Linked DNA regions of Homo sapiens. The protein of the gene in region 2 purifies or fractionates together with the protein of the main gene of each other region. This does not show direct contact. Each region holds a gene or a part of one and is shown on either strand. Other genes may lie near its edges.

Evidence for each region. Proteins that work in one complex are often made in the same cells at the same time.
Region 1: the proteins of USP47 (region 2) and PLS1 purify together in Homo sapiens (affinity purification with mass spectrometry; 2 studies listed by BioGRID and IntAct, with this or other methods). This does not show direct contact.

Annotation. Positions count from the first base shown.
Region 1 is NC_000003.12:142,686,833-142,690,770, reverse strand, and holds part of PLS1 (plastin-1), read right to left. Parts: intron 1,154-3,938; coding exon 958-1,153; intron 1-957. UniProt on the Homo sapiens protein: Actin-bundling protein. In the inner ear, it is required for stereocilia formation. Mediates liquid packing of actin filaments that is necessary for stereocilia to grow to their proper dimensions.
Region 2 is NC_000011.10:11,848,086-11,852,361, reverse strand, and holds part of USP47 (ubiquitin carboxyl-terminal hydrolase 47), read right to left. Parts: intron 1-4,276. UniProt on the Homo sapiens protein: Ubiquitin-specific protease that specifically deubiquitinates monoubiquitinated DNA polymerase beta (POLB), stabilizing POLB thereby playing a role in base-excision repair (BER). Acts as a regulator of cell growth and genome integrity.

The DNA.
Region 1 (3,938 bases), on a different chromosome or scaffold from region 2:
TTTGTTATTATGATTCATATACTGTAAGCTTCAATGAGGTTCAGTAAATATAACATAGCTAATTGATACAAAATAATATGTTATAGAACCTAAATGAATCCTTTCAAAGATTACTTGACATTTTGTCACAGGAGAAGGATAAAGATTTTACATCAAATCATGAATTCCAGTTCTCAAAATTGAGTTCTAATGTGTTTACAACTACAATATCCCATCATTATAGAAGGCAAATTAGGTAGAAATTTTACAAAATCAAAGCTTTGTTCTGCTATTCTAATTAAGTTTTATTTGTGTTTCATTCTATGGGCATATTAAGAGAGAAATAACACAGCATGAACAATGCAAAAAGTAAAATATCAACCCAGATGGAAAGAATAAATGGTACTAATAAAAAGAACATTCAGAATGAATATATTTATAGAGTATAGAAAAGTACTAAATACAGTACCTACATTAGGAGGGGTCAAATCTGCATTTCATGAAGCAAAACAGGAAAGTATTATATATTATGAGACAGATAACGATAGACCACACAAAAGACAAATAACGAACACTGTAATTTTTTTCATGTACACTAAAAACCTTAAAAAGAGAACAATACTAGAGTCAAACTGGACCTTTCAAAGGAGAAAAACACCTACAAATAATTATTTTATTCTAATAGATAATTCATTGTCCATGTTGGTGGTAGAGCTGTTATGTGATCATTTATGAGAATATTTTAAATGTATGATAGTTTTCACTAACCTCTTATGGAGAAATAAAAGATTTACCCCAGCATTCTCTTTTAACCAAAACCAGCAACCACCTTCCATAATTTTAATTTTTCAATAGATACACATACCTACACACACTAAATTGCATTTCCCACCACAATCCCCTATCTCTGACAGTGAAGTAAGACAATACCATAAGAAGATAAATATAGCAAGTCAATTAAAGGCAGAAAGAACGCACCTTCCAGTAAATTCATATCGATGTCATTATTATTCGGCTTGTGCAGGCACGGGTATGTGTTAAACAAATTAGCTACAAAAGCTAAATTAAGTTTAGGATTGCCTGAAACCACATCTGCAGGAGTAACAAACTGTTTGCAGCCCAGTTTATCTGCTTCTTGAAGCATGAGTCCAGCACGCTTCAGGTCATTTGTCTCCTAAACAATAAAACAAAAATGGTTACAATTGAAGTTTTAATTGGCATAATTTTTATTGGTATACATGTTTATAAGCAATTACTTTTCCACAAATATATCAAATAATAACTCAAAATAAGATCAAAATGTGTAGTAATTCCAAGTCAACTTACCCATTCCTTTATTTATTTATTTATTTATTTATTTATGTATTTAGAGACAGAGTCTTGCTCTGTTCCCCAGGCTGGAGTGCAGTGGCGTGATCTTGGCTCACTGCAACCTCTGCCTCTTAGGTTCAAGTGATTCTCCTCCCTCAGCCCCTGAGTAGCTGGGATTACAGACACATGCCACTATGCCCAGCTAATTTTTGTATTTTTAGTAAAGACAGGGTTTTGCCATGTTGGCCAGGCTGGTTTCGAACTCCTGATCCGCCCACCTCGGCCTCCCAAAGTGCTGGGATTATAGCCGTGAGCCACTAAGCCCAGCCCCCGTGCCTTTTAAGTTAAAAGGAAAAAAGTCTCTGAATTTCCTTGCTGGGATAACTGAGTTATATTTTACCCTTTTTGCTAAAATACTCAGCAAAATCCTCAAATATTGTATCAGTAAGCTCCTACTGGTTGCACTATAGATAACTTATTCAAGACCAGCTAGTAGAGTGCCCTCTGGATAACAGGCATAGTTATCATACCCACTGTACACTGAGTGACATTTCCAGAAGGCTCTTCTTGATGAAAAACAAGTTGAAATACATATTTTAAAAATTAAAATCATAGGGAAAAGCACCTTTCACAATTGCAAAACCCTGGAAACAAATGAAACAACCCAAATACCTATAAACAGGAGAGTAGATGAATGAATTTGTATATTCACACAATGACATCCAATATGGGTAACTCTTAGAGATACAAGGCCAAAAAGAAGTACTAGAAATTTAAGTATAACATGATAAACTTTAAAGGAAGTTAAAAAGTAAAATGAAGAATTTAATTTTGTAAGGGATACATTTGGATGAAGGGAAACTACATAAAAAGAAAAGCAGAACAACAATGAACACAAGATTCAAGACTGTGGTTACCACACTGGGCGAAAACCGAGGTGGGATAGGGAAGAACTGTACAGAAAATGTCACGTCAAAGTTTTAGTTTTCCTGTTAGATTGAGAGTTCATGAGGCTTGTTACAATTTCAAAACAAACAACCACACACAAAAATAAATTTAAAAATGGGTATGCACAGACCCATATGAGTATATCATGACCAAAGATAACCTACCTAATTCTGTGCACCAGAGTTGCAAAATAATTAATCATATAAATGAAATCAGAGAAAGCAACAGATTATTAAATTAACAAAGAAAAGTTACCATTGTAGACATCAAAAAATGACAATATGTGGCTGGACGTGGTGGCTCATGCCTGTAATCCCAGCACTTTGGGAGGCAGAGGCAGGCGGATCACTTGAGGTCAGGAGTTTGATACCAGCCTAGCCAACATGGTGAAACCCCGTCTCTACTAAAAACACAAAAATTAACCAGGTGTGGTGGTGTGCACCTGTAATCCCAGCTACTCAGGAAGTGGAGGTAGGAGAATCACTTGAGCCCAGGAGGCGGAGGTTGCCATGAGCCAAGATTGTGTCACTGCACTCCAGCCTGGGCGACAGAGCAAGACTCCATCTAAAAAAAAAAAAAAACAAACAAATAAAGACAACATGTGGACCTTATTTTAGATCCTAATTCAAATAAACTATGAAAAAAATGGCATTTATGAGGCAAGTGGAAATGTCAACATTGACTAGATATTTTGATGATGTTACAGATTGTTGTAATTTTTTTAAGGTATGATAAGGTATTGTGGTTTTATTTTAAAAGTGTCTTTGTCTTTTAGAAATATATATTGAAATATTTATCCATGAAGTAATGTCTAGGATTTGCTTCAAAATAATATAGGAGAGGAGAGAAATAGGGAATAAACGAGATAAGATTGACCATGAATTGGCAGATGTTGAAACTGAGGGATGAGTACCTGATAGTTTAGTATACTAAGTCTGTTCTCTTGAATATATTCAAAATTTTCCATAAGTTTAAGTTCCTAATTTTTTTACTTAAAATGATTTGCACATTTTACAGAGCGTTGCAATACTGTGTTTCTGAAATATGTCATTATAATAATGTGAGATATAATTAATTAGTAATGACTCAAGTTGCCTTTAAAACCAAATGTTACGGACGCCGCACTTTAAGTACGTGATATATTTTCATACAGTCTATTATCTGACCAAATTTTAATGTTTAGAATTCAAGTTTGTCCAACCCACGGCCGGTGGGTCACATGCGGCCCAGGACAGCTTTGAATGTGGCCCAACACAAATTTGTAAACTTTCTTAAAACACTAGATTTTTTTGCACCTTTTTTTTTTTTTTAGCTCATCAGCTATTGTTAGTGTTAGTGTATTTTATGTGTGGCCCAAGACAATTCTTCTTCTAATGTGGCCCAGGGAAGCCAAAAGACTGGACATCCTGATTTAGATAGAACCATCCCTGGTATTTATAACTTATGCTAAAAGAATGAGATTCCTAGGAAGTATGCTTGGTAGGTCAGAATCTGTATCAGTCCTTCCTACACCATGAATATCTATTTTTATTTTGTAGATTTCTAAATATAAGCTGGTAAAACTGATAATTGATTGCTTAAAAATCTAACAACAGGTTGTTGCTTCCTTTCCTGGCATATGCTGACAGTCAAAAGAGCACCCTGGTGAGTTCCAATTGCCTTGCACCAGGGAAACATGAATGTAGGATTGATTCCACAAA
Region 2 (4,276 bases):
TAATCCAAAGAATAAATATCCATAAGTCCATACTGATACAAATAAATAAGTAAATAAATGGGGGTGGGGGGAAGGACAAATTCTCCTCACAGAAGAATTTAAATTAATAAATGTAGAAATAATGAGAGAAATAGAAAATCACTATTATTAAGCCACAGTAATAATTGCTGCAGGCAAGATCACAGATAGATGATAAAATTAGTGGGCAGAAATTTAGGGGGAAATAGGTTATCTGCATGGTCTCAAAGAATTTGATTTTTAAAAGCTATTTTATTTTTAAAGTTTGACCTGCCTGGCTGAGTAACTTTAAATCAAAGTACTTAATAATTATTAAAGGGAAAAATAGTAACTTCACAGTGGAGAAACCTAGCAGACACCCTCTTACCCAAGTGATCAAGGTTAACATCACCAGTAGTACGTATCAGCATCATGCCCCCCTACCAACATAATGCACTAAGAAGAACACATCCCATCTGTGATAATCCTTCTTTTTATTCATAACCTCAATCTATTCATGAGAGAGCATCCACAAACCCAAATTGAGAGCCATTCCATGAAATAACTGACCAGTACTCTTCAAAAGTGTCAAGATCTTGAAAATGAAGACTGAAAAATTATCACAGATAAAAGGAAACTAGGAGATATGATAACCAAATGCAATGTGGTATCCTAAATTTGGATCTTGAAACAAACAAAAACTATAAGAGGGAAAACTGGTAAAATCTGAATAAATTCTGTAGTGTAGTTAATAATATTATACTAAGGTTAATTTCTTCTGATCATCGTTCTATGGTTATATAAGATGTTAAGATAAAAAGAAGCTGGATGAAGGGTATACGGAAACTTTGTACTCTTTCCGCAATTCTTGTGTAAATACATTAAAGCAAACAAACAAAAAAATAAACTAAGGGGCTCAGGAACTGGAAGTTTCAGACACTTTGGGAACGAGAGTGGAGTCCAAACTAGAACTGACCAAAATCTAAGAAGTAGTGAAAATCCCCAGACCTCCTCTTCTACTCTTCAACCCTTTCTGATAAAAGACTAAACAATCTCTAGAGAGCATATAACAGGATATATCTAGACTAGAGGACAACATGCTCAATTGAATTTGAAGGGTGCCATAATGAAAACTGGGGAATTAGGTTAATCTGCATGCTTAAAGATGAGACCCATATCCCCTTTTCCTACTCAGCTCTCAAGCTTGTTCTCTCCTGGCAAAAGATGAGAAATTTTGTCTGGGAAAACAATCCAGCACAAAAGAAAAGATGTGTCACTGGGTGCCCTGGTCTAAATGCCTATGTCTCCTTACCCCAAAATTCACATGTTGAACCCTACTTGCCAATATGATGATATTAGGAAGTGGGATCTTTGGATGGTGACTGGATCAAGAAGGCAGGGCCCTCATAAATGAGATTAGTGCCCTTGTAAAAGAGGCCCCAGAGAGCTGCCTTGTCTCCTTCCACCATGTGAGGACACAGCGAGACGGTGCTGCTCTGTGAACCAGAAAGCAGGCTTTTACCAGACACCAAATCTGCCGGCACCTTTATCTTGGACTTCCCAGCCTCACTCACAGGAACTGTGAAAAATAAATTTCTGTGGATTATAAGCCACCCAGTTTATGGTATTTTGTTTTTGCAGCCCAAATGGACTAAGACTGGGAGTCTGCAAGGAAATCATCCAGATTTACCATCCTACACAAAAAACCATAATCACACAAAAGCAGAGCTTCCATTCAGCTTAGGGCCTCTCTCTTAAATAAGCACAGACTGCCAAGGATCATGAGACATCTAAGGAAAGCAACAAATATGAAAGATAAAGACCAAAGCAAACAAACAGAAAAAGGAAATTTGGAAGAAAAAGAATATGCAGACAAAAAAAAAAAAAACTACCAATATTTCCTAAGAGAGATAAGACACTGCATCCATAAAACAAATATAGGATTTTTTTTTCAAAAAAAGGAATGGAAACTATACATATTATAGCAGAAATAAGAACTTAGTAGAAAAACTGGAAGACAAAGTTGAGAAAAATCTCCCAGAAAGCAAAGAAAAAAAATGTAAAGAAATGGAAAATAGATGAAAATAGACAAGAAAATTAGAGAAACCCATCAGTAGGCCCAACATCTAACAACAGGAATTCAAAAGAGAGAGGAGAGATAAAATGAAGGAGAGGAAATCAAAGAAATTATTTAAGGAAAATTTGCAGAATTTATGAGATAAATTCCAGATTGAACAGGATTAGCAGAATGAATTAAAAAAACAGACATATAACTACATAATACAAGAATTTCAGAACTCTGGGGACAAAGATTCTCTCTCTAGCTCGCAAAGAGAAAAAAAGAAAGTTTCAAAATAGTTGAAAAGGATGTTCTAAGCATCTGATCTCAACATCGACACAGAAAAATAGAAGACAGTAGAGCAATGCCTTCAAAATTCTGAGAAAAAATTATTTCTGACTCAGAGTTCTCTGCCCAGCCAAACTATCCATAAAACAAGAGGGGAGAAAAAACATTTACAGACATGTATAGTCTTGAAAAAATTCTATCCCATCCAGAGAACTATTGAAAGTGGCCCTTCAAAATGAGAAAGTAAACAAAGACAGCCAAAGATACCAGATACAGAAACAGGGGCTCCAAAACAAGACAGAACTGAGAGAATCATAAAGATGACAGTAAAGCAAGTCCAAGACAACAGCTGCACAAAAGTTCTAGCTTTAACAAGTTCAAACTGGAGTAGGTCAGAAGGCCCTGGGAAAGAGCTTCTCACGAAGTCAAAATTGGTAGGTTTGAAGATAAGCCATTTATACACTTGAGAGATAGTTTGGGCTAAATCAGGGTTTCTCAACAACAGCTCTACTGACATTGTGGGCCTTCTAATTCTTTGTTACAGGAGGCTGTCTTGTGCAGTGCAGAAGAATATTTGGCAGCATACCTGGCTTCTACCCACTAGATGTCAGTAGCACACACCCGCACTCTCCTCCCCTCCCCCAACATTGCCAAATGTCCTCTGGAGAGAAAATGGGCCCCAATTGATAACCACTTGGCTAATTTAATAAGTATACAGAAAACTAAGCAAAGCAAAATTGTTAAAAATTACTAACTCTGGCCTAGCTAACATGGTGAAAATGGAGTCATTATAAACTGAAATACTGATGTATACAGGCTGGGCATGGTGGCTCACGCCTATAGCCCTAGTACTTTGGGAGGCTGAGGCAGGAGGATTGCTTAAGCCCAGGAGTTCAAGACCAGCTTGTGCAATAATAGTGAAACTCCATCTCTATGAAATGCGGATGTATCCAAACGACTTGCAGTATGACAATATTGGGAGTACTGGGCAGGGTTAAAATGTGTGCTTGTGTGTGGTTGGGGATAGTGGTAAACCCTCATTTTTACTTAAACTGAAAAATATCTTAAACTGAAAAATCAAGAAGTAACACTATAAAAACGCTAGTTTCGGCTGGGCATGGTGGCTCACGCCTGTAATCCCAGCACTTTGGGAGGCCGAGGCAGGCGTATCACGAGGTCAAGAGATCAAGACCATCCTGGCTAACACTGTGAAACCCCATCTCTACTAAAAATACAAAAAATTAGCCAGGTGTGGTGGCGCGCGTCTGTAGTCTCAGCTACTCAGGAGGCTGAGGCAGGAGAATCGCTTGAACCCGGGAGGCAGAGGTTGCAATGAGGTGATATCGCACCACTGCACTCCAGCCTGGGTGACAGAGTGAGACTCCGTCTCAAAAAAAAAAAAAAAAAAAATGCCAGTTTCAAATATGGAAGTAAGTATCAAAAGAATGAGTTGAAAGCAGTTGCCCCTAGGCAGCCTGAAATGAGGGGAAATTTGCAGAGACCTACTGTTTTTGTAAATATAGTCATGTGCCATATAAAGACATTTTGGTCAACAATCACAAAGATGACAGTGGTCCCATAAGATTACAAATACCATATTTTTACTGTACCTTCTGTATGTTTGAACACACAAAGACTTATGATGTATTACAACTGCCTACAGTATTCAGTACAGTAACATGCTGTAGCCTAGGAGCAACAGGCAATGCCATATAGCCTAGGTGTGTAGCAGGCTAAACCATCTAGGTTTGTGCAAGCACACTGTATCATGTTCAAATGATGTCTAATGATACATTTCTCAGAATAGGTCCTCATCATTAAGTGACAAGTGACTATAGTTCTGCAGAGCTATTTAACTCTTATAAATATATGCATGTATTAAACATAACTTTGATAAAAATTAAATTTAAAAAATCAACTGAATCCATATTA